Homo sapiens: one gene and its partners. The protein of the gene in region 1 interacts with the protein of each later gene in a biochemical or structural test. Each region holds a gene or a part of one and is shown in the gene's direction. Other genes may lie near its edges.

Region 1 (7,027 bases):
CCGCGTTGTTCTCTTTCATATTTTTTCCTGAGGATTGTTGAAAACTTTGTCTAAAGGACATATGGGAATTACCATGGGCTTGCCCTATTGTGTGTATTTGGACATGTTATGTAGATTTCCATTCCTTGTATTAGAAAATTCTAATAAAGATTCTCTGTCTGAGTCTGATGGTCCTAGTGGTATTCAGCACGAAGTGAGCTGTACTGTCTGGGATGAATTGAATTAGCGATTGTTCAGTGTCTGCCAACCCCAGTTTTTGGGTGCAGCGACTCTGGATTCGTAATCTTGTTCATTGCTCTGTCTCCTCCTTTAAGTGCAGTGTCTGGCATATAGTAGCGCTCAGTAAATACTTACGAACGAATGTATCATCAGGTGTTTAGAGTCTGTGCTGAGACTCAGGGTGAATACGCCACACCACGAAGAGATATTTCTAAGGAATGTCCATATTCTGACTGGAGTTGCTGTTGGAGCCACGGTAGAGCCATGTGGTGGTGAAAGGATTCTGGCTCTGCTGGTAAGGACTGGAGTTGTTTGACTTGGAGAAGGGAAGACTTATGGAGCTATGACAATTTTTCTTTTCTAATATTAGAAGGGTTGCGTAGAGAGGCACAAGTCTATCATCACTATTGGAAAACATTCTTAGAAATTATGCCCTGTTCTCCTGGTAGGGAGTCAATAGCTATTATAATTGTATTGCTTTTGCTTCATCTTTTATGCTAGGAAGTTACTATAGCTGTAAAAACAAAACAAAACAAAACAAAAAAACAAAAAACAAAAACGAGGCAGGTAGAATTTGGGAGAGAAATGTGAGGATGTTTAAGAATTTAAAGGATGTTTTTTGGGAAAGCTACCATACTTGCCCATTTTTTTTTTTTTATGGCAGAGGAGAGAAACTAAACTATATGTTGCATCATAGGCTAATTTTTGGCTCAATATCAACAAGGATGTTTCTCTTTTATATAGGTTAATATTACCTGCTTTAAAGCAGTCAAAAATGCATTTTAATATAATAGTTTCTTTAACAAGTTGTTTGCCTTTGGCAAAATATCCTATTTTATGCTTATTACCCACATCTTAAATTTCTTCACTTGGATAAACAAATCTGGATTTAGTCAATGACTTGTGGTTTATAACAGCCATATCACTTTTATATAAAAGATAATAGCTAAAGTCAGGCAGGTTTCAAACAAGATGCTACTTGGTTGCAGTGACCATGCCCTACATGTTGATTGTTAACTGACAAATTAGCCCTTTAAGACCACATAGTCCTTTAACCTTAAAAAATGATCTAGGCCATCTAAGTTTTTATTTTCTCATTTATAAAATGAGGAGGACAAGCATAAAAATATCCGCAAGAAATGTACTTTCACCTGTGGCTGCATGAAGAGTTTGGTGAATCCTTTCCACACACAAGTATAAAAATGGCAGAATTGCCCAAAACTATTTGAACTCTGGAAATCAACCAAAAGCAAAGAAAATCATTGAGAAACATTTATTCTTAGGAAAACTGTTAGATCTTCAGGTAAGAATAGTGCAAGTCTACAGCATTCTCGCGTGGGCTTCTACTGTGACCTCCTGTCCCAGCACTTTTGGCAAGAATTGTAGTTTGGAAAACCAGCAGCTTCGCTGTCAGACAGCTGATTCAATTTGGGGCAATGAGTAAAAACCTTTGTCGATAAAATGTACTGAACTTGGTAGGGGAAAACAAGGAAAAACCATGTATTTGCTAGTTTAAGGTTGTAGTGCCAGTTGGGGTGAGTGGAAGAGTAGCTATAAATTAAAAGGCAGACCCTGGAAATGAGAGAACCATAAAGGGATAACCTCTTCACATATCCTGGCATAACGTGAAACTATGCACATGTGTAGGGGAGACCTGAGGTTGTCTAACTGAGAGCAAGGGCCAAGGCAGATGAGAATTCTTTAAGCTTTGAATGTGCCCTTCTTAACCCAGATACAGATTAAAGAGCAGGCTCAAGCTGTTTGAGCATATCTTTGGCATGTACATAGCTGAAAACTAAGATATTCAGACACAGAATGACTTCTCTAGAAAGCCAGGCTAAAACATATATATGTGAATTAAAATCTGAACAGATGTAGTCACACTGCCCAGGACACAGATTCCACAGTTTAGGGCCAGACATGTTAAAAGGCTCAGAAATATAAAATTCTACACTGGTGGCCAGGTGCGGTGGCTCACGCCTGTAATCCCAGCTTGAACCCGTGGGTGGAGGTTGCAGTGAGCCGAGATCACACCGCTGCACTCCAGCCTGGCAACAGAGTGAGACTCTGTCTCAAAAAAAAAAAAAAAAAAAGAATATACACTGGCTATGTTATCCAAAATGTCCAGTTTTTAACAACAAATTTTAAGACACGTAAAGAGACAGAAAAATGTGACCCATGCTGAGGGAAAAAGAAAGCAGTTAATAGAAACTGACTGTGAGTGAGCCTAGATATTAGACTTAGCAAAGACTTCAAACTGCTATTATAAACATGGTAAAAGAAAGGAAACATTATTTAAATAATTACAGGAGAATATGATGACATTGACCCAACAAATTGGAAATCTCAATAAAGAAATGAGAGCTGTAAAAAAAGTTTTATTCTTTTTGATGCTATTATAAATGGAAGTGCTTTCTTAATTTCATCTTCAGATGATTCATTGCTAGTATATAAAAATATTTGCTTATTAGCTCTAAAATTAATTTTTGTGTTTATTCTCTGGGATTTTCTCTATATAAGACCATGACATCTGTGAATAGAGGATGTTTTAATTCCAGCTCCCCAATCTGGATGCCTTTTGTTTATATTCCATGTCTAATTGCCCTAGCCAGAATCTCCAGTACAATGTTGCATAGAAGTCATGATGCAGAAATCCTTGTTTTGTTTCTGATTTTGGGGAAAAACTTTTAGACTTTTACCATTAAGTATAATGATAACTAGGGGTTATTGGTAGATGCTCTTTCTCAGGTTGAGGAAGTGTTCTTTTATTCCTATATTTCTGAATGTTTTAATCAAGAAAGGGTATTAGATTTTGTCCAGTGCTTTTTCCTGAATCAGTTGAGATGATCATGTGTTTTGTTTTTGCTTTTTACCTTTATTCTATTAATATGGTGTGTTACATGGGTTTTTTTCATATGTTGAACCATCCTTGCATTCCTGGGATAAATCCTACTTGGTCATGGTGTATAACCCTTCTACTATACTGTGGATTTAGTTTCCTTATATTTTATTGAAGATTTTCACATCGGTATTCATAAGGGACATTGGTCTGTAGTTTTTTGAGATTTCTTTGCCTGGCTTTGGTATCAGGATATGCTGGCCTTATAGCATGAGTTGGGAAGTAGTATCCCATCCTCTCATTTTTGGAAGAATTTAAGATAGATTGGTGTTCATTCTTATTGAAGCATATTACTGGTGAGGCCATCTGGTCCTTGTCTTTTCTTTGTTGTAAGTTTTTTGTTTTTTATTACATATTCCATCTTTTTACGTGCTGTACATCTACTCAGATTTTCTATTTCCTTTGAGTCAGTTTTTATAGTTTATATTCTAGGAATTTGTCATCTATTTCATCAATTTGGTAGCATACAATTATAGTATTCTCTTATAATTGTGTACTTTTTGTAAGGTTGATATTAATGTTCCCATTTTTATACATGATTTTAAAATTTGAGTCTTCTCTCTTTATTCTTAGTCTAGCCAATTTTGTGTGTGTGTGTGTGTGTGTGTGTGTGCAGGGTCTCTGTCACCCAGGCTTGAGTGCAGTGGTGTGATCATAGCTTATAGCTATGTAAATGGAAGTGCAGCCTTAAACTCCTGGGCTCAAGTGACTTTCCCTCTTGTCAGCCTCCTGAGTAGCTGGGTGCACAGGCATGCTGGCGCATGCCTGGTTAATTTCTTAAATAATTTTTGTAGAGACAGGGTCTTGCTATGTTTTCCAGGCTGGTCTCAAACTCCTGGCTTCAAGCAGTCCTCCCACTTTGGCTTCCCAAAGTGCTGGGATTATAGGTGTCAACCATTGTGCTCGGCCTCATCATTTTAAAGAATAAACTTTTGGTTTTGTTGATCATCTATTATTTTTCTAGTCTATATTTCATTTGTATTAGCTGTATTTTTTCCCCCTTGTTTCTGCTTAGTTTGTATTGAGTTTTCTTTTTATAGTTTCTTGAGGTAGAAGTTTAGGTTGCCAATTCAAGATCTTTCTTCTTTTTAAATGTAGTTACTTGTTTCTGTATCCCATAGATTTTGCTATATGTGTTTGTTTTCATTAATTTCAAATTATTTTCTAGTTTTCTTTATGAGTTCTTCTTACTTGTTGATTGTTAAATTTTCATGTATTTGTGAAATTTCCAGATTTCCTCCTGTTAGTGATTTCCCCTCCTCTTTCCTCACCTCCCTTCTCCTCTTCTCTTTTCTTTCATTTTTTGAAACAGAGTCTCACTGTATCACCCAGGCTGGAGTGCAGTGGTGTGATCATGGCTCACTGCAACTTCTGCCTTCTGGGCTCAAGCAATCCTCCCACCTCAGCCTCTCTAGTACCTTGGATTAAAGGTGCACATGCCACCACGCCCGGCTAATTTTTGTATTTTTTGGTAGAGATGGGAGTTTTGCCATGTTGCCCAGGCTGGTCTTAAACCCCTGGGCTCAAGTGATCTGCCTCCCTCGGCCTCCCAAAATGCTGGAATTATAGGCCTGAGCTGCTGTTCCTGGCCTCTGTTACTGATGTCTAATTTCCTTTCATTGTCATTGGAAAAGATACTTTGTATGAGCTTAATATTTTCAAATTTGTTGAGACTTGACTTGTAGTGTAGTATTTTAGACTTTGGTCTTTGAGAATGTTTTTATGCACTTCAGAAGAATGTGTATTCTATTTTGTGTAGTGTTCTAGAGATATCTGATAGGCCATGTTTAAGTCTTGTTCAAGTGTTCAGTTTACTTGTTCATCTCTTGTCTGGTTGTTCTATCCATTATTGAAAGTTGTACGTTGTAGTCTCCAAGCATTAATGCGGAACTCTTTTTGGTTTTTTTCCTTTCAATTCTGTCAGTTTTTGCTATATGTATTGTTCCATGCTTTTACTCTCAATCTGTGTATATTTTTGGATCTAAATTGAGTCTCTTGTAAACAGTATATAATTGGATTGTGTTTTTACATTTTATCCTGTTATTCATTGTGTCTTTCTTTTTGAGACAGGGTCTCAGTCTGTTGTCCAGGCTGGAATGCAGTGGCACGATCACAACTCACTGCAGCCTCGACCTCCTGGGCTCAAGCTATTCTCCAACCTCAGCCTCCCATGTAGCTGAGACCATAGGTGCATACCACTATGGCTGGCTAATTTTGTCATTTTTTTTGTGGAGACAGGGTCTTGCCATGTTGCCCAGGCTGGTCTTGAACTCCTGGGCTCAAGTGATCCACTCAACACAGCCTCCCAAAAGTGCTGGGATTGCAGGTGTGAACCACTGTGCCTGGCCCTGGCCTTATGTGTCTTAACTGGAAAGTTTAGCCCATTTACATTTAGTGTAATTAGTGATAAGGAAATACATTTACTATTTTATTATTTGTTTTCTCTATGTCTTATATATTTTTTGTTTGTCAATTCCTCTGATGCTGTTCTTTGTGTCAGATATTTTCTAGTGTACCATTTTGATCCCCTTCTCATATATACATATAATTCTCACATTATATAAATAAATATAACATATCTAAATATATTAATATATTTAGATATATATTTATATTAATATATATTTAGATATATTATATTTAGATATATATTAATAAAAATTTAATATATTTAGATATATATTATATTTATATTAATATATTTAGATATATATTATATTTATATTAATATATTTAGATATATATTATATTTATATTAATATAATATATTTAGATATGTTATATTTATGTAATGTGAGAATATGTATATATGAGAATTATATATATAAATAAAATATAGTAAATAATTATGTGTGTATTTCTTAGTATTTACCCTGGGGGTTATAATTAACACTATATATTATAACAATTTAGTTTGAATTAATACCAGTTTAGTTTCAGTGGTATATAAAAACTTTGCTCCTGTATTTGTTGTTATTGTCACAAGTTACAGCTTTATGAATTTTGTGCCAATCAATATAGATTCATAATTACTGTTTTATGTAGTCTTTTAAATCATATAGCAAAGAGGAGGCATTGCAAACCAAAGACACAGTAATATGCACTTTTATATTTACCTATGTAAATACCAACAATTACTGGTATCCTTTAGTTCATATGTGATTTTAAGCCACTGTCTGATCCCCTTACATTTCAGCCTGATGGACTCTTTATAGTATTTCTTTTAGGGGAAGTTTACCAGTGACAAACTTCCTCAGTTTTTGTTTATCTGGAAATATCTTAATTTTGCCTTTATTTTTAAAGGGTTGTTTTACCAGATAGAGGATTCTTGGTTGACAGTTTCCTTTCAGCATTTTGAATATGTTATCCCACTGCCTTCTGGTCTCCATGGTTTCCAGTGAAAAATCAGTTGTTGATTGTATTGAGTGTCCTTTTCACGAGTTGCATTTTTCTTGCTGCTTTCAGGGTTCTCTCGGTTTTTGTCTTTCAACAATTTGATTATGATGCATCTTGATATGAATCCTTTTGCATTTATCCTGCTTGGAATTCATTGAGTTTATGAGCTAGATTCATGCCTTTCATCAGATTTGGAAAGTTTTAGCCATTATTTCTTCAAATATTTAGGCCTCTTTCACTCTCTTTTCCTTCTGTGCCTCCAATTATATGTATATTAGTATGTTTGGTGGGGTTCCACATGTATGTTCATTTTCCTTCAGTCCACAGACTCAGTAATTTTAATTTACCTATCTTTAGGTTTGCTGATTCTTTCTTCTTGTAGAGGTTCAAGGGATTTTGATGTTTCTCAAGAAAGAGATATGATTATAAGAAGTGGTAACACACAACAAGCTTCATTTGGTGGCACTTGGACAGGATTATATGAGAGGAAACTTCTTTTACAGCATGAAGCTG
Region 2 (7,027 bases), on another chromosome or scaffold:
ATCGGGGTGCTCCCCTGGATGGTGCTCTGGGGGGGTCCTGGAAGTGGAAAATGGGGTTGTTAGGTTTTGGGGTTCCTGGGGGGGCAAGATGGCAGGCGGGGGCTGTAGGGTTGTCATGGTATGATTTTGGGGGTTCTATACTACTCTTCAGGGAAAAGTAGGGCGCTGGAGGTTTAAGAGGCTGTGGGGAGCCCCCAGATCTGACCCATGATCCCATCGGCCCCCTCCCAGGTGTCCTGTGGCCAGGCGGAAAGCAGTGAGAAGCCCAACGCTGAGGACATGACATCCAAAGATTACTACTTTGACTCCTACGCACACTTTGGCATCCACGAGGTCAGTGGGGACAGTCCCCAAGGCCCCAATCTTAGGGGGGCTTAAATGTTGGGGAAGGGGTGGAACCTGTTTTCCCACGCATGCGCACTGCTTCCCCTGGCCGCAGGCCGCCCCCCTGCCCCTCTGCTGCGCACTTCCTAGGGTCGCCTCGCCAAGCCGTTGCCTTGGAGACCGAGGTTAGCCTGAATCTCTGCAGGGGCCTCGCGCCGAAGGCTGGGGTGGGAGAGCGCATGCGTGCCTGGGGCCTTAGCCAGAGGTCGGGCAGGGCCCACTGGTCTCTGCCGCCCTCTAGTGACCGGCGGTGGGACTGCGCCCCGGCTGCTCCCGCCCTAACAGCTTCTGCACACTTCAGATCTGACTGAAGACACTGAAATCCCAGAACGAAGCTGGGGTGGCATTCTAAGGAATTTTCTTTTCCCCCTGAGGCCTTTTTCATAAAATTGTGGCAAAATATGCATAAAATTGCCATTTTTTATTTTTAGAGACGGTCTCGCTCTGTCGCCCAGGCTAGAGTGCATTGGTGCAATCATGGCTCACTGCAGCCTCGACCTCCCCGGCTCAGGTGATCCCCCCACTTCCACTTTCGGAGTAGCTGGGACCACAGGCGCGCGCCACCACGCCCAGCTGATGTTCTTATTTTTCTGTAGAGATAATCTTGCCTTGTTGCCCAGGCTGGTCTCAAACTCTTGGGATCAAGTGATCCTCCGGCTTTGGCCTCCTGAGGTGCTGGGATTACAGGCGTGAGCCACCGCTCCCAGCCTGAGGACTTTTAAAAGCCAGGGTTCACTGGTTCTTAGGTAGCAGTGGTGAAGTCCGGCCAAGATTGGAGTTTAGACCATCTAATCTGATTTTTTAAAAAGGGAAACTGGCTGGGCGCAGTGGTTCACGCCTGTAATCCCAGCACTTTAGGGGGCTGAGGTGGGTGGATCACCTGAGGTCAGGAGTTGAAGACCAACCTGGGCAATATGGTGAAACCCCATCTGTATGAAAAATACAAAAATTAGCCGGGCATGGTGGTGTGCACCTATAATCTCAGCTACTTGGGAGGCTGAGGCAGGAGAATCACTTGAACCCAGGAGGCGGAGGTTGCAGTGAGCTGAGATTGCACCATTGCACTCCAGCCTGGGCAACAGAGTGAGATTCCATCTCAAAAAATAAAATAAAATAAAAATAAATAAATGAATAAATATAAAAGGGAAACTGAGGTGCATGGAAGAAAGCGAGAGGGCCGAGCTCTGGCCCTCCGAGCTCTCAGGACACGCTGTTCTCCAGCTGGGGATATGGGGCCCCTCACGGCGTCTCTGTGCCATTCTTGCCCTAGGAGATGCTGAAGGACGAGGTGCGCACCCTCACTTACCGCAACTCCATGTTTCATAACCGGCACCTCTTCAAGGACAAGGTGGTGCTGGACGTCGGCTCGGGCACCGGCATCCTCTGCATGTTTGCTGCCAAGGCCGGGGCCCGCAAGGTCATCGGGGTGAGTCTCCAGGGTGGCCAGGCGGGGCCGGGCCTGAGGGATGGAGGGGAGCCCATCAGGGCTCAGGGATTGGATGGAGGTGATGGGGGCAGGGGATGGGTCTCACCCTCCCTTCTTCCTGGGCCCTCAGATCGAGTGTTCCAGTATCTCTGATTATGCGGTGAAGATCGTCAAAGCCAACAAGTTAGACCACGGTGAGCCCAGAAAGAGGATGGGTTTGTGGGAGTGGAGGGGGTGATGCCCTGCTTCCCCAGGGCCCTCTGAAGAGCAGTGGGGTCTACAGATGACCACAGATTCAGCAGCTCCCAACCCATGGTCTTTTGGGCTGCCGGCCGCCTGAGAATCTGAGTGTCAAAATCACAGGCTTAGCACCGCAGTCTTAAAATTAGGGCAAGAAGCACTCTCTAGTTTCTTGAATGAGTAATAGAGTCACGTGGTTGGCCACGGAAGGCCCACAGTGAGAAGCCTTCCCTGTTTCCCAGCTGCCCTCCTCTGAGTTTAACCAACACTAACTTCCAGAGAAGTCTGGACCTACAAACACATACATACGTAAATGCATTTACATTCTCGTGCATAATTTTCACGCCAGTAGCATTTCATACCAGCCTCTTGCCCTTGGCTTCTTACACCTGCTTGTCATGTCGTTTAACACTTTCCAGGATGTTGCGGCATCCGCTCTTTTGCATGACCACCATCATAGGTACATCCCCAGCATTTTTTTTTTTTTTTTTTTTTTTTTGAGATGGAGTCTCACTCTTTTGCCAGGCTGGAGGGCAGTGGCACGATCTCAGCTCACTGCAAGCTCCGCCTCCTGGGTTCAAGTGATTCTCCTGCCTCAGCCTCCCAATTAGCTGGGATTACAGGCGCCAGCCACCACGCCCGGCTAATTTTTTTGTTTTTTTAGTAGAGACGGGGTTTCACCGTGTTAGCCAGGATGGTCTCGATCTCCTGACCTCGTGATCTGCCTGCTTGCCTTGGCCTCCCAAAGTGCTGGGATTACAGGTGTGAACTTTTTTTTTTTTTGTATTTTTTTAGTTGAGACATGGTTTCACCATGTTGGCCAGGCTGGTCTTGAACTCCTGACCTCAGGTGATCCATCCACTTTGGCCTCCCAAAGTGCTGAGATTACAGGCGTGAGCCACCGTGCCATCCTGAAGTGATTTTTAAAAAGAGATTATTATAATGAACGCACGAGTCCATTTGAAGCAAATTCCCACTGTGATGTAATTTTCCCGGTAAATGCGTCTGCTTGTGTCTTATCTAATAGATAAAGGCTGTTTTGAGAATGTGATCATGCTGTTACTTATTATATCAAAACCACCCAGTTAAAAACAAAATCGCGGCCGGGCACAGTGGCTCACGCCTGTAATCCCAACATTTTGGGAGGCCGAGGCGGGCGGATCGTGAGGTCAGGAGATCAAGACCATCCTGGCCAACACGGTGACACCCTGTCTCTACTAAAAATACAAAAAATTAGCCGGACTTGGTGGCTGGCACCTGTAGTCCCAGCTACTCGGGAGGCTGAAGCAGGAGAATGGCGTGAACCCGGGAGGCGGAGGTTGCAGTGAGCTGAGATCACGCCACTGCACTCCAGCCTGGGTGACAGAGCAAGACTCCGTCTCAAAAAAAAAAAAAAAAAAAAAGTAACATCACCTGATACCCAGTCCACATAAAATTTCTGCTCCTGCCTCAAAAATGTCCAGAACGATGTATGAATTTTAAAACTGTTAGAAGGGTTCATGGCTTCTGCTCACGCAGTTCTCTGAACTGAAGTGGGGTCCCCAGGCTCTAGCCCCCGGGGGAGGTGAGGTGAGGGGCAGGCCTCCCGGGGGCTGACGTGGCCACCCTTGTCCGCCCGCAGTGGTGACCATCATCAAGGGGAAGGTGGAGGAGGTGGAGCTCCCAGTGGAGAAGGTGGACATCATCATCAGCGAGTGGATGGGCTACTGCCTCTTCTACGAGTCCATGCTCAACACCGTGCTCTATGCCCGGGACAAGTGGCTGGTGAGGCCCCAGCGGGACGGGTGCAGCTCGCGTGGGCTGGGGTCCAGGTAGAAGACGAAAACCACGCTCAATTTTTCCCACAGACGGGACTTACTGTGGGGGCTTAGCTGCAAGGTGTTAGAAAGCCACAGCCCAAGCCAGGTGTGACAGACCCTGGAGGGAGATGGTGCGATGTGGGGGAGGTCGTAGGAACAGGAAATCCGTAGCGGCGCAATAGCCCAGGTCCTTAGGCCCCAGCAGGCCTCCCCGGGAGAGGTGAGGTGACGGAGAGGTGGATGAAGCATACGGAGGGGCAGCCAGGGCAGGTGTGCCCTTGCTGCGTGTGGAACAGCAGGGAGGCCCGTGTGGAAGGAGGGTCTAGAACGGCAGCAGGAGGAGGAGTGGAGGTGAGGGGTGACAGGGCGTGTGCAGATTTTGTGGAGGCTTATGGGACCCCGTGCTTTTCCTCTCAGAGCAGCTAGGGAGGGTCTGAGGATCCCCAGAACCTCCAAGGGCCGGGAGCTGACTGGGGTGCCCCTGGGTGCCCTCTGGCGGCCGTGTGGGAAATAGACCAGGGGGCGAGGGGTGAGTGCCGCTGCGACATGAGGGTGGCCCAGACCAGGGCAGGAGGCCACATCTTGGAGGCAAGACTCAGGGTAGTGTTGCCAGGCCCCACCCTTCATGCCTCGCCCTGCCCCTCTGTAGGCGCCCGATGGCCTCATCTTCCCAGACCGGGCCACGCTGTATGTGACGGCCATCGAGGACCGGCAGTACAAAGACTACAAGATCCACTGTGAGCGCGGCCCGGGAGCTGGCGGGCGGGGCCTCGGGTGGGCTGCTGCGGGCTCACCCCCTCCCTGCCTGCCTCCCCAGGGTGGGAGAACGTGTATGGCTTCGACATGTCTTGCATCAAAGATGTGGCCATTAAGGAGCCCCTAGTGGATGTCGTGGACCCCAAACAGCTGGTCACCAACGCCTGCCTCATAAAGGTGAGGGGGTGGGCATGGCCAGGTGCCCCCTGGGTTGAAACCAAAGAGAGGCCATCACCTGGCCCTGGCATGGGACTTTGGGGCCCAGAATGTTGGCCTGAGGTCTCAGAGCCTGATCTGCCAGCCAGAGGTGGTGCTAGAGGCCCAGGAAAGACACTTCGTCCTTTAAATATCTTTGTGAGCGCTGCTGTGTGAGAACCATGCTTGGCACTTGGCTTCTGGCGGAGGAAACACCCAAAGCTGGCAGCTAAAGCCCACAGCCCATGCACGGAAAGGCAGGACCCCAGGGCGATGAGCGGATGCACATGCACGCGGGCCACTGCAGAAGAGCACGGGGCCAGGCTGGGCTCCGAGATGTGCCTGAGGTCCCAGCTACTCGGGAGGATCACTTGGGCCTGGGAGTTCAAGGCTGCAGTGAGCTGTGATCACATCACTGCACTCCAGCTTTGGTGACAATGTTTTGTTTTGTTTTTTCCTTTTGTTTTTTTTTACTTCTGAGACCCTGTTTAAAAAAAAAAAATACGGCGATGAGTATTTGTTGAGCTGGGATGTGTGAGCCGGGTGAAGCTGGGTGGCTGACCGGGGGATCCTGTCGGGGAGGAGTAAGTTGTTGAGTGGGGGAGGAGAGGAGACTACAGGGGCAGGGACCCCACTCGGGCCACCCTCCTGAGAGCCAGGGGAACTGGCGCAGGGTTTAGGTTGGCATTTGTGTTGCCGTTTGAAGCCATCATGTTGTTGGACTTGTCAAGGGGTTGGGGAGACAGTGGAGTGGGGCGCCTGCATTCTAGGAGGTCTGGACAGAGTTAGGGTGGCACTGCCAGGTTTGGGTGTTGGAGAGGAGGGAGCAAGGAATCTGGGCTCGAACCCACATGGTTTATTGGGAGCCGGATAGGCAGGATGCAGAGTGAAGGAGGAGCCGAGGCTGGGTGCCAGTGAGGGAGGGCTAGCAGGAAGGGGACAGCGAGGTCACAGGCCCTCTGGGAGCTTAAGGGAGGGAGGAGGGGATGAAGCGAGGTGGGGACGCATCCCGGAGCTCGCCCTCTCATGTCCTGCAGGAGGTGGACATCTATACCGTCAAGGTGGAAGACCTGACCTTCACCTCCCCGTTCTGCCTGCAAGTGAAGCGGAATGACTACGTGCACGCCCTGGTGGCCTACTTCAACATCGAGTTCACACGCTGCCACAAGAGGACCGGCTTCTCCACCAGTGAGGCGGGGCCCACAGGGCTGGGGGCCGTTCCCGAGCCAGGGCGGAGGCGCACCCACGTAGTGGAGGGGGTGACAGAAACGGGCAGAAGGAACCATGGGGACACGCGTGTTCCAGTGTGAGCTCTGCCATGTAGCAGTCACGTGGCCTTGGGCAAGTGACCTGAGTGTGCAGTGCCTCAGTTTCCTCATCCACAAAAGGCTGACACGGTCCCTGTCTCCAAAGCTCAATGACAGGGAGGTGACTCGCGGATAGCAGTCCCATCAGCTGTCATGGGGGTGGGCATTCCGACAGAGGGAACGCAAGGGTGGGGTTGGGGGGGGCAGCAGGCCGAGGCCGGCTGACCCGCCCGCGCCCCCAGGCCCCGAGTCCCCGTACACGCACTGGAAGCAGACGGTGTTCTACATGGAGGACTACCTGACCGTGAAGACGGGCGAGGAGATCTTCGGCACCATCGGCATGCGGCCCAACGCCAAGAACAACGTGAGGCTCCGGGCAGCTGGGTGGGAGGGTGGCAGCTAGGGCGGGGAGTGTAGATTGGGGGGGGAGTGGTGGGGGAGGAATGGTGGCAGCGGGGGTAGGGGATGGGGGCAGCCGGGGTGGGGGATGGGGGCAGCTGGCGGGGGCGAGCACCTCTGCCTATTCCCGGGTCCCCAAGCCCCTCAGCCCCATGCCTGTCTACACAGCAGGATTGCTTGAGCATTCACCGGAAGTTATGGGCCTGGGGACCCAGGCTGAAACCCTGCCCTCCTGGTGCTTCCACTCTAGACAAGGGGGTCAGTGACATGGTGATGCCAGTTGGAGGTGACCTCTGTCAGGCTGGGAGCAGGGCAGACAGGTGTTGGTGTAGGTGGGCTCCAGGGCAAGAGGCAGCCCCCAGTAGAGTGCACGGGGTTTTCTAGCCCAGCTGGGAGGCATGAGAGGAGAAAGGCAGCTTTTTGTTTTCTGCTCCCCTTTCTTTTTCCTCCTGAGCACTTGGCAGGAGCTGCCATCACCTGAGATCAGGGGGCTTCCGGGGGAGCTGGGGGGGCTTCTCGGA
Region 3 (7,027 bases), on another chromosome or scaffold:
CCACTTACTCTGTGAACTTAATATGTCTTAATATATTTGTGCCTTAGCTTTCTTATGTGTAAAACAGGGATGATAATAGTACGTTCCTCATAGGTTCTTGTTAGCATTGAGTAAGTTACTATGTGAAAACTTTTAAAACCAAGTCTTTGTACATAAGTGTTTACTACTATTTATTGTTTGTTTTCCTTTCCAGTTCGACTAAGAACTTCTTGGGTCAGGTTAATAGAGGTGCCATTTAATTAGAGCTGTGTCCTTTAGGGTCCCAACAGGAAACAGATGCTATACTCAAAACAGGACAATTTTAGAAGAGTTTTTTTTAATAAAGAAGCTGTTTACAAAGGCGCAAGTTCAGAGAAACAACAAAAGACAGTGAAATAACCTGGATCTAGGACATAAGCTATTAACAACCCCTAAGCCTGAAGGGACAAGGTTGAGGAGTGGTTACTAGAACCTTAAAGGAAAGAGAATCGTGTAGAGTCACTGCCTTGAGAGAAACCTTGACCTTTGGTTGGGCTGATCCCAACCAGAAGCTAGAAGGCATAGGAAGCCCTATTGACACAGTTCATATAGGCCAGTCTTCTGAGCCAGAGAGCAGAGTGGAAAAAGGTACAGAGTGAGTTGGGAGGCAAATGAAAGATGTCCAGTACAGAGCTGTCAGAAATAGACAATGGTAATTACAACAGGACTGTGAACCTTGGGGGAGATATTTCAGACAAAATATGATTCTTCCTGTCACCCAGAAAATAACAGAATCTTTTTGGTTTTCCCCTTAAAATTCTTATTAGTTATTATGTACTTGTGTTTGCATAATCCCTGGAAGGGCATCCAAACTATGTAAAAATAGTTAAATGTAAGCGCTGCGATAGATGGGAAATACTGCTCAACATATCTGTTTATATCATTTGATTTTTGATCCATCTAGTATGTTATCTATTTTTCAAGTAAATTTTAAAAATCATTTCTGGAAACCGAGAGCATGGTTACTACCAGCAATACTCCTGGAATCACAGGGCTTTGCAAACTGGTTTTCTGTAGTCAGAAGTTAATTATTTGCATGTGCTCTTTGTACTCTTATAGTATTACAGGTATCCCCAGTGCCTAACTCTGCTGTCTGCTATATTTCAGCCTTTCATCCGCTGTAGTTTACAATGCAGGGATCTGGTTGATGAAGCAAAGAAGTTTCATCTGAGGCCTGAACTTCGGAGTCAGATGCAGGGACCCAGGACAAGGGCTCGCCTAGGTAAGCTGGTATCTCGGCAGAATGAGGGGATGCTTTTCAACTACTTCTTGCAGGTGACAACATAGTTGAAAATAATACTCTATAAGAAGTACAGACACCTCGTTTCAGACCTTTTCTTCTATCATCTCAGACAAGTCACTTTACCACTCTAAGCTTTCTTTCCTATAAATCAAGGATGTCTTCTCTATCTACTTCACATAATTATTTGGAAATTAAATGAGATAAAATATAAAAGCACTTTATACATTGTCAGGCATTACATAATATGTTACAATTTTTTGTCAATATTATTTAGATTCTGTGAATTAGAGATAATTTTAGTGCCACATAATGGCAGGTAAGTAGTATATGCTTCCACCCACCTCTTCACTTCCCCTTATGTGGTTTTTCCATTCCGGAATGAAGAGAGGAAGAAAAGGAGCCCAGTGTGGTAGAAAGTACATGGGTTTTGGCAGTTACTGTTGGTGCAGGTACCAGTTTACCTCGTACTAGATTTATTAACTTGGGCAGGAACCTTAACCTCTGTGTGCTTCAGTTGCCTCATCTGTAAATGGAATCATCGTAGCACCTGCCTGTAACATTGTTATGAAGAGTAAATAAAGTTATTTATGTAAAGCCTTAAAACACTTCTTGGCACATAATAACTATGTGTATTAGCTATTATCTTAGCAAATAGACCTAGGTTCAAATCCAAGCCCCAGCAATGACTGGTTGGGCAAGGTATCAATTTATCTGAGCCTGTATGTCTACCACTAAGATGAGAGTTAGTGTCTTATCTCAGTGTTGGGAGGATTGAATGAGATAATGTATATAAGATACCTAACACTATAGCTGGCACACACTAAATACTCAGATATCACCATACTTTCCACTTCCTATTCTCTTTGCTTCACTGTCCAAAAGCCTAGGTGTATAGTGTATAAAAACATTTTATAAGTTATGAATTACTCTATATGTATGGGGTGGTATTTTGTTTTATTGTTTCCTTTTATCTGACTGAGGACTCATGATGCGTGCTAAGGTGTTAGTTGATAATTAAGCTGCTCACTGATGGGTTTAGGTAGAATGGTGATTTATCCGCTATATTTTATTTTTTTTAATAGAAATGAGGTCTCACTATGTTGCCCAGGGTGGAGTGCAGTGGCGTGATCTCGGTTCACTGCAGCCTTAGCCTCCTGGACTCAAGCAGTCTTCCCACCTCAGCCTCCCAAGTAGCTGGGACCGCAGGCACGTGCCACCATGCCTGGCTAATTTTTATATTTTTTTGTAGAGACAGAGCCTTCCTTTGTTGCCCAGGCTGGGTCTTGAACTCCTGGACTCAAGCAGTTCACCTGCCTTGGCCTCCCAAAGTGCTGGGATTACAGGCCTCCCATATATATATATATAATTTTTTTCCTTTTTTTTTTTTTTTTAAGACAGAGTCTTGCTCTGTCACCCAGACTGGAGTGCAGTGGTGCAATCTTGGCTCACTACAACCTCTCCCAGGTTCAAGCAATTCTTGTGCCTCAGACTCCCGAGTAGCTGGGACAACAGGCGACTGCCACCATCCCTGGCTAATTTTTGTATTTTTGGTAGAGACAGGGTTTCTCCATGTTGACCAGGCTGGTCTCTAACTCCTGGCTGCAATTGATCCACCCACCTTGGCCTCCCAAAGTGCTGGGATTACAGGCATGAGCCACCATGCCTGGCTCCCTCTCCTATATTTTTTAATGGCATAAGTACTGCATGTTCAATGTAGAACTTGTAGAAATACAGAGAAGCAAAAAATAAATAAAAATCATCCATAATCTTACCACTCAAAGATACTGCATTTTTTTAAAAAGAGAACTTTTAGATAGGGCATTGTAGATGGTATTTTCTACTACTGCAAGATGACAAAATGTGATCTGTGTTTCATATGCTTTATACACAGATACATATCAACACAAGATAGATTGAAGGACTGAATGGTGAAAAACTATGAGAATATTAGAAGAAATTATAGGAAAATATTTGTATACCTTCTGGATGGAAGTCTTTTTTTTCTTTTTTGTAAAATATATGTAACAGGCCGGGCACGGTGTCTCACACCTGTAATCCCAGCACTTTGGGAGGCCAAGGTGGGCAGATCACTTGAGGTCAGTAGTTCGAGACCAGCCTGGCCAACATGGTGAAACCCCATGTCTACTAAAAATACAAAAATTAGCTGAGTGTGGTGGTGCACACCTGTAATCCCAGCTACTCTGGAGGCTGAGGCAGGAGAATCGCTTGAACCCGGGAGGCGGAGGTTGCAGTGAGCCAAGATTGCACCATTGTACTCCAGCCTGGGCGACAGAGTGAGACTCCATCTCAAAAATAAATAAATTAATTAAATAAAATATATTTAGCATAAAATTTACCATCTTAACCATTTTTACATGTACAGTTGACTCATGTTAAATACATTGTTATACAATCAATCTCTGTAACTCTTTTTGTCTTAACAAGACTGAAACTCTGTACCCATTAAACAATAAACTCCCAATTTTGCCTTTCCTCCCAGGGTAGGAACTTTTTTTTTTTTTTTTTTTTTTTTGAGACGAAGCGTTGCTCTTGTTGCCCAGGCTGGAGTGCAGTGGCATAATCTTTGCTCACTGCAACCTCTGTCTCCTGGGTTCAAGCGATTCTCCTGCCTCAGCCTCCCAAGTAGCTGGGATTACAGGTGTGTGCCACCACGCCTGGCTAATTTTTTGTATTTTTTAGTAGAGACGGGGTTTCACCACGTTGGCCAGGCTGGTCTCGGACTCCTGACGTCAGGTGATCCGCCCACCTCAGCCTCCTAAAGTGCTGGGATTACGGGCATGAGCCACCGCGCCTGGCCATTACTTTTGTTTTTTAAAAAATAATTATTATTTTTAAAAATTGGGTTGGGTGGCCGGGCGCGGTGGCTCATGCCCGTAATCCCAGCACTTTGGGAGGCCGAGGCGGGTGGATCACGAGGTCAGGAGATCGAGACCATCCAGGCTAACACGGTGAAACCCCGTATCTACTAAAAATACAAAAAAAAAAAAAAAAAAAAAAAAGCCAGGTGTGGTGGCGGGCACCTGTAGTTCAAGCTACTCAGGAGGCTGAGGCAGGAGAATGGCGTGAACCCAGGAGATGGAGCCTGCAGTAAGCTGAGATCACGCCACTGCACTCCAGCCTGGGCGACAGAGTGAGACTCTGTCTAAAAAAAAATCGGGTTGGGTATCCCTAATCTGAAAATCTTGAAATTCAAAATGCTCCAAGATCTAAAACTTTGAGTGCCAACATAATGCTCAAAGGAAATGCTCATTGAAGCATTTTGGATTTGGGGTTTCTGAATTAGGGATGCGCAAATAGTTGTGCAAAGAAATAATGCAGATATTACAAAAATCCAAAAGTGTCTGAAATCTGTAGCGCTTCTTGTCGTAAGCATTTCAGATAAGGGTTACTCAACCTATACCATGAAAGCCAGTGATGTAGTGGAAAGAACCTGGCACTAGGAGATAAGACATTTTGCTTACTTTGATTTTTACTCCAATTTCCGACACTCACTCTAGTAACTTGCTGTTTGGACAAGTCCTTTAACTTCTCTGGGTTACCAGTTCTTTATATCAACAGAGTTAATGTTCAGTCACTAAGGTACTTTCCAACACAGAAAAATGTTTCCTTTTTGCATGATAGCACTCATTATTTGCTTATTAAATTGAACTAAAAGCTAATGAAAATTTTTGTGAATCAGTAAACCCAGAAGATTCTTTGGAGGTACATTTCTTGCATATCTCTGAACAGGCAGCAGAAGGGGCTCCTGCTTGGTTAGAGAACTTGCTTATTGCCCTGACCTTAAGGGATTAAACTATAAATCTATATATCTTCATAGTCTTGAGGTTATTTTTCAGAAGTTCTAGAAGGGAAATGCTGAAGCAGTTTCCAATTAGATTCTTAGTATCGCTTTGTCAGTGCCTTAGCAGGTAGATTGTTCTTACCATCATGTCCTCTACCCATCTCTATGCATATTGGCTGCTAAACCAGCTACCAGGATAATGACTCTTCTGCATACAGCAGAAGGAAATTAAATTGACAGCCAAGTTAAAATAGCCTGCCAAATAAGGGATTTTTAGTTATTAACCTTACCCATTACTGTCTCAAAGAAGATATAATGGAAATTACTTTTCTAATTTGTGGCTGTCTCCTTTTTTGAACTAAAGATCAGTGCAAATGGAAATGTGAGTCTCTGAACCCTGTTATTTTAGCAGTCCTGCATCTGCCTTATTTCTCTAACAACGTGTCACAGCACACACACACTCCCCTTCCCCTCTTTCTAAAAATAATGACCATGCCACTGCCAGGTTCTTCAGTTTTAGAAATGTGCTTTTTCACACTGTTCTTGTAAGATGTCCTAGACAAGCTTTTCTCATTAAAAAGATAAAAATCTCACTTAACAAGTACTCCATCATTGGCAGAGAACAAACAGGCTTCTTTCAGGTTGACTCTTTCACTAGCTTTTTTTTACACGAGTCAGATTGTTTGAGTATTGGTCTCCAACTTAGGGTTAAAACATTAAAACCTTAGGAGTTCTTCTGGGGAAGAAGGACTTTCTAGGCACAAAATAGTGGAAGAAATGACAAAGAATAAAAACATATTTGAATAAATAAAAAAATCATATACAAAATTATGATAAATTAGGAACATAGGTTTGGAACAACCCTTTAAAGGGTTAAAGGGTTGGCCTGGCAGGGTGCCTTACGCCTGTAATCCCAGCGCTTTGGGAGGCTGAGGCAGGTGGATCACCTGAGATCGGGAGTTTGAGACCAGCCTGACCAACATGGAGAAATCCTGTCTCTACTAAAAATACAAAATTAGCCGGGCTTGGTGGCACATGCCTGTAATCCCAGCTACTCGGGAAATTGCTTGAACCTGGGAGGTGGAGATTGTGGTGAACCAAGATCGTGCCATTGCACTCCAGCCTGGGCAACAAGAGCAAAACTCCATCTCATAGATAGATAGATAGATAAATAGATAGATAGATAGATAGATACATAGATAGATAGATAAAGGGTTAAAGGGTTAAAACCATTTGTGTGTAAAGAGCTCATAAGAATGCATGAGACAGGGCCAAGAGCAGTGGCTCACACCTGTAATCCCAGCACTTTGAGAGGCTGAGGCAGGCGATGGAGCCCAGGAATTCGAGACCAGCCTGGCCAACAGGATGAAACCCTGTCTCTACTAAAAGTATAAAAATTAGCCAGGCATGGTGACGCATGCCTGTAATCCCAGCTATTGGGGAGGTTGAGGCAGGAGAATCATTTTAGCCCAGGAGGCAGAGGTTGCAGTGAGCCAAGATCACACCACTGCACTCCAGCCTGGGCCACAGAGCAAGACGCCGTTTCAAAAAAAAAAAGAAAAGAAAAAAATTAGTGGTCCCAGCTACTAGGGAAGCTGAAGTGGGAGGCTAGGAGGATGCTTGAGCCCAGGAGGTCGAGGCTGAGGCTGCAGTGAACCATAATTGCACCAGTGCACTCTAGCCTGGGCAGCAGAGCAAGACCTTGTCTCAAAAAAGAAAAAAAAAACAAGAATGCATGAGAGAAACAATAAAGATTTGAGTGTACAGTTCGCAGAAGGGCAAGTAAAGCTGGCTACTAGATACAAGGGAGGGAGTTCAACCTAATTAATAATAGGGTCTTATTAGTTATAAAGAATTAAACATAATTTTTTGCCTACCAGAGTGTCAGAGATTTAAAAACTATCCAGTGCCTCAGAAAGTAGAATGAGTTGGCACCTTTATAGTGTTGGTGGGAGTGTAATTGG
Region 4 (7,027 bases), on another chromosome or scaffold:
ATTAGAACGGCTGGAAATCTGGAATGGCTGTTTCATGATACCAGTAACTCATCAGAATTGAAATTTGTATGATTATTAGAAATTTTTTGCTGCTCTGGATTTTGTGTGAGGAAGTGCCCTGGCTTCATTTATGTTGAGTTTACATGAAGAACTTACTAGAACAGAGGAAAACTCATGAAGTGTGAGACCACTCCTGTGTGTAAGATGAGCCTATTCAAGTCAGCAGTAGTTCCCATGATAAAGGGATATGTGGTAATGTCTTCCTTTGGGAGTTAATGTCTCCCTAATGCAGGGCTTTATTTTTCTTTTTAATTGGTAGCTGTATCGGTGAGTCTTTCAGCACCTGAATTGAAAACCAGCACATACGTAGGAACATCTAGTTTTTAGTCATCAAAAAAGCCAGTGTGATACTAAATTAAAATGTACATTGTAGAAGTAAAAACAGGACTCGAAGATGATTAACCTGGGCAGCAAGTTGAGTCCTTGTACCTCCAGTGTTTCTCATACTGCATTTTAAAATTAATTCCATGAATTTGAGAGATATTTTTTAAGTGACTGGAAATCTTTGCAATTCATTTTTCATAAGATCACAAAAATTAAATAGGATGAGTCTGGATCATCTAGAATGAAACTTTAAAGGAGCGAAAAGAAAGGCAAATGATGTTTGCAAGTGACTAATACTTAAAGAGCCAGGCTGCTTAATGTTTCGGTCAAGAAAATCCCATAAATGCAACAATATTTTAATAATAGAAAAAACCAACTTGGTCTCGAAGGTAAAAGTTTGGGGTTTTAAAAACCATTATCTTCAAAGAATCAGTTAACTATTAAACTCTGTTTAAAACAGGCATTATGTATTGACTCTACCATAATCTTTATTTATGTCTAGATTTAGGTAGGTAAAATATGGTATCTTTGAGAAAATGAAGTATTTCCTTTTAAGCAAATGTTCTCAAAATTTCCAAGGGTAAGTGAAGTGATTATTATATTACTTATAATGGTTAAGGCAGCATTCAAAAGATGACAGTTTTAAAAAGGAGTAGGTGGAGAATATGTACTTTTAAAGAACTTCTTGCTTTTCTAAGATGAACATTTTAAAGATATATTTTGGATACAAGTTGCCTTGTAATTTTCACCAGGACATGAAAAGTTTTTATTAGGTTGTTTCTTTGTATGCTAATGTATCATGTTGATACCTTTATAGGTATTCTTTTTTTTTTTTTTTTTTTTTTGAGATGGAGTCTCACTCTGTCTTCCAGGCTGGCACTCAGCTCACTGCAACCTCCGCCTTCCGGGTTCAAGCGATTCTCCTGCCTCAGCCTCCTGAGTAGCTGGGATTACAGGGATGTGCCACCACGCCCAGCTAATTTTTTATTTTAGTAGAGATGGGGTTTCACCGTCTTGGCCAGGCAGATTTTGAACTCCTGACCTTATGTGATCCACCCACTTTGGCCTCCTAAAGTGCTGGAATTACAGGCATGAGCCACCACACCGGGCCAGTATTCTTAAGCTTTCTGACTGGCATGGCCCAATTTAAGATCTGATGTCCCTAAGGCAACTTGACCAGAACTCTGGATAGGGGCTTCTAGGAAAATAAAGTGACCTGGAATATGTGTGTCACCTTTTGATTTGCATTTACTTAGGTGTACTCTCCTTTTTTCATAGTTGGCACACAGCGAGCTAGCCCTGAGAATATGGGTTTTGAGGTTAGCCAGACTAAATCCTTCTGATACATTATCAATTTTTACTCCTATTCAGAATATCAGGGACTATTTTAGGAAATATTCTGTTTCAAAAGGTTATCTTTGTGGTAACTTTGTACTTTTAAAATCTTGCCACAATAATTTTGATTTATAGCACACGTGTAATATTAACCACTCTTTCCTTCTTAGATCCATGTTCACTAGCGGCCTTACAGAAAGTACTCAAAAAGAAGTTCGAATAGTTGGTGTTGAAGCTGAATCGATGGATTTAGTGTTGAACTATGCCTACACTTCCAGAGTTATTCTTACAGAGGCCAATGTTCAAGCCTTGTTCACTGCAGCTAGCATCTTCCAGATTCCTTCCATCCAAGACCAATGTGCTAAGTATATGATCAGTCATTTGGACCCACAGAATTCTATTGGGGTCTTTATCTTTGCTGATCATTATGGTCATCAGGAACTCGGAGATCGATCAAAAGAATACATTCGTAAAAAGTTTCTGTGTGTCACCAAAGAACAAGAGTTTCTCCAGTTGACAAAAGACCAACTGATAAGTATACTAGACAGTGACGATTTAAATGTAGACCGAGAAGAGCATGTTTATGAAAGCATTATAAGGTGGTTTGAGCATGAACAGAATGAAAGAGAAGTGCACCTTCCAGAAATTTTTGCTAAATGCATACGTTTTCCTCTGATGGAAGATACCTTTATAGAGAAAATTCCACCTCAGTTTGCACAGGCTATAGCCAAAAGCTGTGTAGAAAAGGGACCATCCAACACCAATGGCTGTACACAGAGGCTTGGAATGACTGCTTCTGAAATGATCATATGTTTTGATGCTGCCCACAAACACTCAGGAAAGAAGCAAACAGTGCCTTGTCTAGATATAGTCACAGGAAGGGTGTTTAAACTATGCAAACCACCAAATGACCTGAGAGAAGTTGGGATTCTTGTATCACCAGATAATGACATTTACATTGCAGGAGGGTACAGGCCAAGCAGCAGTGAGGTCTCCATCGACCATAAGGCAGAAAATGATTTCTGGATGTATGATCATTCCACCAATAGATGGCTATCCAAACCATCCTTGCTTCGAGCCAGAATAGGCTGCAAACTTGTCTATTGCTGTGGTAAAATGTATGCAATCGGAGGTCGTGTTTATGAAGGTGATGGGAGAAACTCACTAAAATCTGTTGAGTGCTACGACAGTAGAGAGAATTGTTGGACGACTGTTTGCGCGATGCCAGTTGCAATGGAATTTCATAATGCTGTGGAGTACAAAGAGAAGATCTATGTTTTACAGGGTAGGTGCCTAAGTGATTTAGTTTTTCATGGAAGGGTAACACATCAAGTGGTGGTTTACTTAATTATACTGAAACAGTTGTGTTCCCGTTAATTGAGGAATACCTCCAGCTTCCTTATCAAACTATTGGAACAGTCTGTTCTGTAAAGAGCTATAAAGAAAATAAACTCTTGAATTAAAAAAAGGCAGGTATTGTTAAATTACTAAAATAATCCTATAATTTTTAATGATTTTGTGTCTTGATATCATGTAGAATAACTATTTTTGAAAACATTCTTTAATAAATAATAGTTCGGCATTTTGGGATAACTATTTCAGAGTAGTTTGTAGGACTTGAAATAAATAGCAAGGTTGTTACATGGCTGTTTTTGCTCTTGAGTAAAATTGAGATGTTGTAGCAACTGGTATTCTGTGGAATTTACTGGATTAGTTTAAAAGAGAAAAGAACAAAGCATTAATTAAGTTATACTATTTAGTTACCAAAGAGTTTTATATAAGCCTTATTATTGCAAAAATTATGAAATTTAATTACAAAGAGTTTGGAAGTATGGTCTTCAAGTTTCACCTTCACTGCTGTTTATGTTGCCTTTCATAATACATTTTCAATTTTTTTCACCGGAAAACTTTGAGATGTCCCTTTTTTTTGGTTTGCCATTTTAAGTGGGACTATCTGATATATGTAGTGTTTGTTTTGTTTTGTTTTCTGTTTGTTTTTTTAACTGTTAAGGACTACTACTTTGGCAAAAATACAGTAGAGGTAGAGTGACTGAGTCAGAGTAAATAAGACATTTGATTCAAGGCTCTGATTTGTGATAACTATTTTCCTTTTATTTGGTTTCTTACACATTTTAGTTGCTTGAATGTTTAATGCAGTGTAGATAATAGCAACATCCTTATTCCTCGTATGTGTCTCTTAATTGATGTTTTTCTCACACTACTACTTAAGGAAAAGGAGCAGCTTCTATGAAGATATACAGTCATGTGCCATGTAATGTTTTGGTCAATGATGGATCACATACACAATGGTGGTCCTATAAGATTATGATAGCATATTTTTACTGTACTTGTTCCATGTTTAGATATGTTTAGATACAAAAATGCTTCCCATTGTGTTACAGTTGCCTAGAGTACTCAGTACAGTCACATGCTGTACAGTTTTGTAGCCTAGGTGTGTAGTAAGCTCCCATCTAGGTTTGTGTAAGTATGCTCTATGATGTTCTTCCCACAAGGACAACTATCACTTAATGATGCATTTCTCAGAATATGTCCCTGTCATTAATTGATGCATGACTGCCCTTATCCCATTGTTTTCTTTCTTTCTTCTTTCCCCTCCCCCTTCCCCTTCCCTTCTTTTCTTTCATTTCTTTCTTTCTCTTTTTTTTTTTGAGGCAGGGTCTCACTCTGTCACCCAGGCTGGAGTGCAGTGGCATGATCTTGGCTGACTTCAACCTCCGCCTCCTGGGTTCACATGATTCTTCCACCTCAGTCTCAGGCATCTGCCACCATGCCTGGCTAATTTTTTTATTTTTGGTAGAGTCGGCGTTTCACTATGTTGACCAGGCTGGTCTTGAACTCCTGACCTGCAGTGATCCACCCACCTTGGCCTCCCACCATTGTTTTCTTTTAAAAATTGTGTTCCTTGCTCTAATCCTTTATTTAACTAAAAATTTCCTAGTAATATCTGAGCTCATTTGTTTAAGTTCAGTGTCAAGTTAATTCCTCAGAAGGAGTTGTACTCTCTGGTTCCTTATTTTAGTTAAATAGAAGCACAGGCCATGATTTGGGTTTGCTGTCTTGTGGAAAAATGGAATATAAGAATGGATGTATGATCCGTCCAGTATACTTGGATAGGTTATGTCATCCAGTATGATGAAGCTGTCTGTGTATGTGTGTATTTTGGTCTTACTGCCTAACTGTTAGTTGGTAGAGGTAGAATTAGATTCCTATTTGGAATGTGAAGTTTGTATATTAATGCAAATACTAAAGCAAACTAGCAATGAATTAATAGAATTTCAGGGCTGGAATTATTAACATCATTTAATTTGAGGTTATATTTTATATAAGAGGACTCTGAAGCCCTAAGGGTTTCTTAATTGCATATTATTAGCTTTAACTTTTATTAAAGAGTACTTTAGATTTTAACATTCAACTTCTTTGGTGTGTCGTCTTTACTTTCTTATCTATAAGAAATTTATAGAGAAGTAGCACACATTACAAAGTTTAAATTTCCTACCTTATTTATCGAGAATCCTGTTACAAGTTAGGCAATAAGGGCAGATGATGTGCGAGCAAATCTGGGAGCTTTACAAGCTATTTTAAGTTAGTTGAAGGCAAAGCATCACTGTTACGAAGTACGTAGTTGAATTTGTAGATAAGAGTAACCCTAGTTCAAAACAGTTTTCAAGGGGAAGCTCAATTTAGAATCTGGTATTTCTAATCTAAACAAAGCCTCTTTACATAAATAAACCTGACATGCATAGTCAGAAGCTTATGTTGTACTATCTGTGGCTATTGAAGTATCATTTAATCTGTTCATAAAGTGTTCAGATTTTTATTACAAAGATTTTAAACAAATGCTATAATTAGCAAAACTATTGTAAATCTTCACTACTTTAATTCTTTCAGACATTTTCATATTGGCAGTCTGACTCAGCATACCTTTTTATTATCAAATCAAAATAGAAACTGACTCAAAGTCAACATCACAAACCATGTATGTGTTTTCTATCTTATTAAAGTCATGTTTTCTCCTGCTGAATATTTCTCTTTGCATTATAGCAACATTCAGGTAAGCACATCAGTGACCCATAAGCATAAATCTGCACAATTCCATCTGCTGTCTTCTAATTAAATAGCATACACATTTATCATGGCATATTTATGATGATGTTACATGTATGCATTTTGGTCTTACTGGCTGAACGTTACTAATAATGCTTTTTTAGAGCTAGAGTAAAATGAATTTTCTATAAACACACAAATTGGATAGAGCAAATAGAATCAAGTTTGTGTTTTTTTTTTTTTTTTTGAGATGGAGTCTCACATTGTTACCCAGGCTGGAGTGCAGTGGCGTGATCTTGGCTCACTGCATCCTTCACCTCCTGGGTTCAAGTGATTCTCCTGCCTTAGCCTCCTGAGTAGCTGGAATTACAGGTGCCTGCCACCACACCTGGCTAATTTTTGTATTTTTAATGGAGATGGGGTTTCACCATGTTGGCCAGGCTGGTCTCAAACTCCTGACCTCAAGTAATCCACCCGTCTCAGCCTCCCAAAGTGCTGGGATTACAGGCGTGAGCCACTGTGCCTGGCCAGAATCAAGCTCTTAACAATTCTGCCATCAAGCCCAAGTAACTCCTTGTACCTTCCCAATACAAACCTCCCAATTCAGGTTGATTATAATATTATCTGTTATATTGTGTCATGGAATGACAAAGTTTTAAGGTATTTTGTAACCCATATGAATGTATCTCTGGAGATTATAAAAGAAATGTTTTAGAAAGTGAAATATATAGCAAATTATGCCCTTTAATCTTTAGAGGTTGTAGTTACAACATATAACCAAAAACCAAACATAAAAATTTACATATTCTTGTTTTCTTTTTTTTTTTTTTAGGAGAATTTTTTCTCTTCTATGAGCCTCAAAAAGACTACTGGGGTTTCTTAACCCCCATGACTGTGCCTAGAATCCAGGGCTTAGCAGCTGTATACAAGGACTCTATCTACTACATAGCTGGAACCTGTGGAAATCATCAACGTATGTTTACTGTAGAAGCCTATGATATTGAGCTAAATAAATGGACTCGTAAGAAAGACTTTCCATGTGATCAGTCCATAAATCCATACCTTAAACTGGTACTTTTCCAGAACAAACTCCATTTATTTGTTCGAGCTACTCAAGTGACTGTTGAAGAACACGTCTTCAGAACCAGCAGAAAAAATTCCCTTTACCAATATGATGACATTGCTGACCAGTGGATGAAAGTGTATGAGACCCCAGATCGGCTCTGGGACCTTGGCCGGCATT

Evidence for each region.
Region 2: the proteins of FBXL17 (region 1) and PRMT1 form a complex in vitro, tested with the Homo sapiens proteins (one study listed by BioGRID).
Region 3: the proteins of FBXL17 (region 1) and KLHL12 form a complex in vitro, tested with the Homo sapiens proteins (3 studies listed by BioGRID, with this or other methods).
Region 4: the proteins of FBXL17 (region 1) and KBTBD8 form a complex in vitro, tested with the Homo sapiens proteins (one study listed by BioGRID).

The regions. Positions count from the first base shown.
Region 1 is NC_000005.10:108,372,072-108,379,098, reverse strand, and holds part of FBXL17 (F-box/LRR-repeat protein 17), read left to right. Parts: intron 1-7,027. UniProt on the Homo sapiens protein: Substrate-recognition component of the SCF(FBXL17) E3 ubiquitin ligase complex, a key component of a quality control pathway required to ensure functional dimerization of BTB domain-containing proteins (dimerization quality control, DQC).
Region 2 is NC_000019.10:49,680,256-49,687,282, forward strand, and holds part of PRMT1 (protein arginine N-methyltransferase 1), read left to right. Parts: intron 1-231; coding exon 232-333; intron 334-1,654; coding exon 1,655-1,810; intron 1,811-1,861; exon of another isoform or gene 1,862-1,940; coding exon 1,941-2,004; intron 2,005-3,671; coding exon 3,672-3,814; intron 3,815-4,498; coding exon 4,499-4,586; intron 4,587-4,666; coding exon 4,667-4,782; intron 4,783-5,837; coding exon 5,838-5,988; intron 5,989-6,349; coding exon 6,350-6,471; intron 6,472-7,027. UniProt on the Homo sapiens protein: Arginine methyltransferase that methylates (mono and asymmetric dimethylation) the guanidino nitrogens of arginyl residues present in proteins such as ESR1, histone H2, H3 and H4, FMR1, ILF3, HNRNPA1, HNRNPD, NFATC2IP, SUPT5H, TAF15, EWS, HABP4, SERBP1, RBM15, FOXO1, CHTOP, MAP3K5/ASK1, MICU1 and NPRL2.
Region 3 is NC_000001.11:202,903,223-202,910,249, reverse strand, and holds part of KLHL12 (kelch-like protein 12), read left to right. Parts: intron 1-1,125; coding exon 1,126-1,240; intron 1,241-7,027. UniProt on the Homo sapiens protein: Substrate-specific adapter of a BCR (BTB-CUL3-RBX1) E3 ubiquitin ligase complex that acts as a negative regulator of Wnt signaling pathway and ER-Golgi transport.
Region 4 is NC_000003.12:67,001,306-67,008,332, forward strand, and holds part of KBTBD8 (kelch repeat and BTB domain-containing protein 8), read left to right. Parts: intron 1-1,889; coding exon 1,890-3,004; intron 3,005-6,616; coding exon 6,617-7,027. UniProt on the Homo sapiens protein: Substrate-specific adapter of a BCR (BTB-CUL3-RBX1) E3 ubiquitin ligase complex that acts as a regulator of neural crest specification.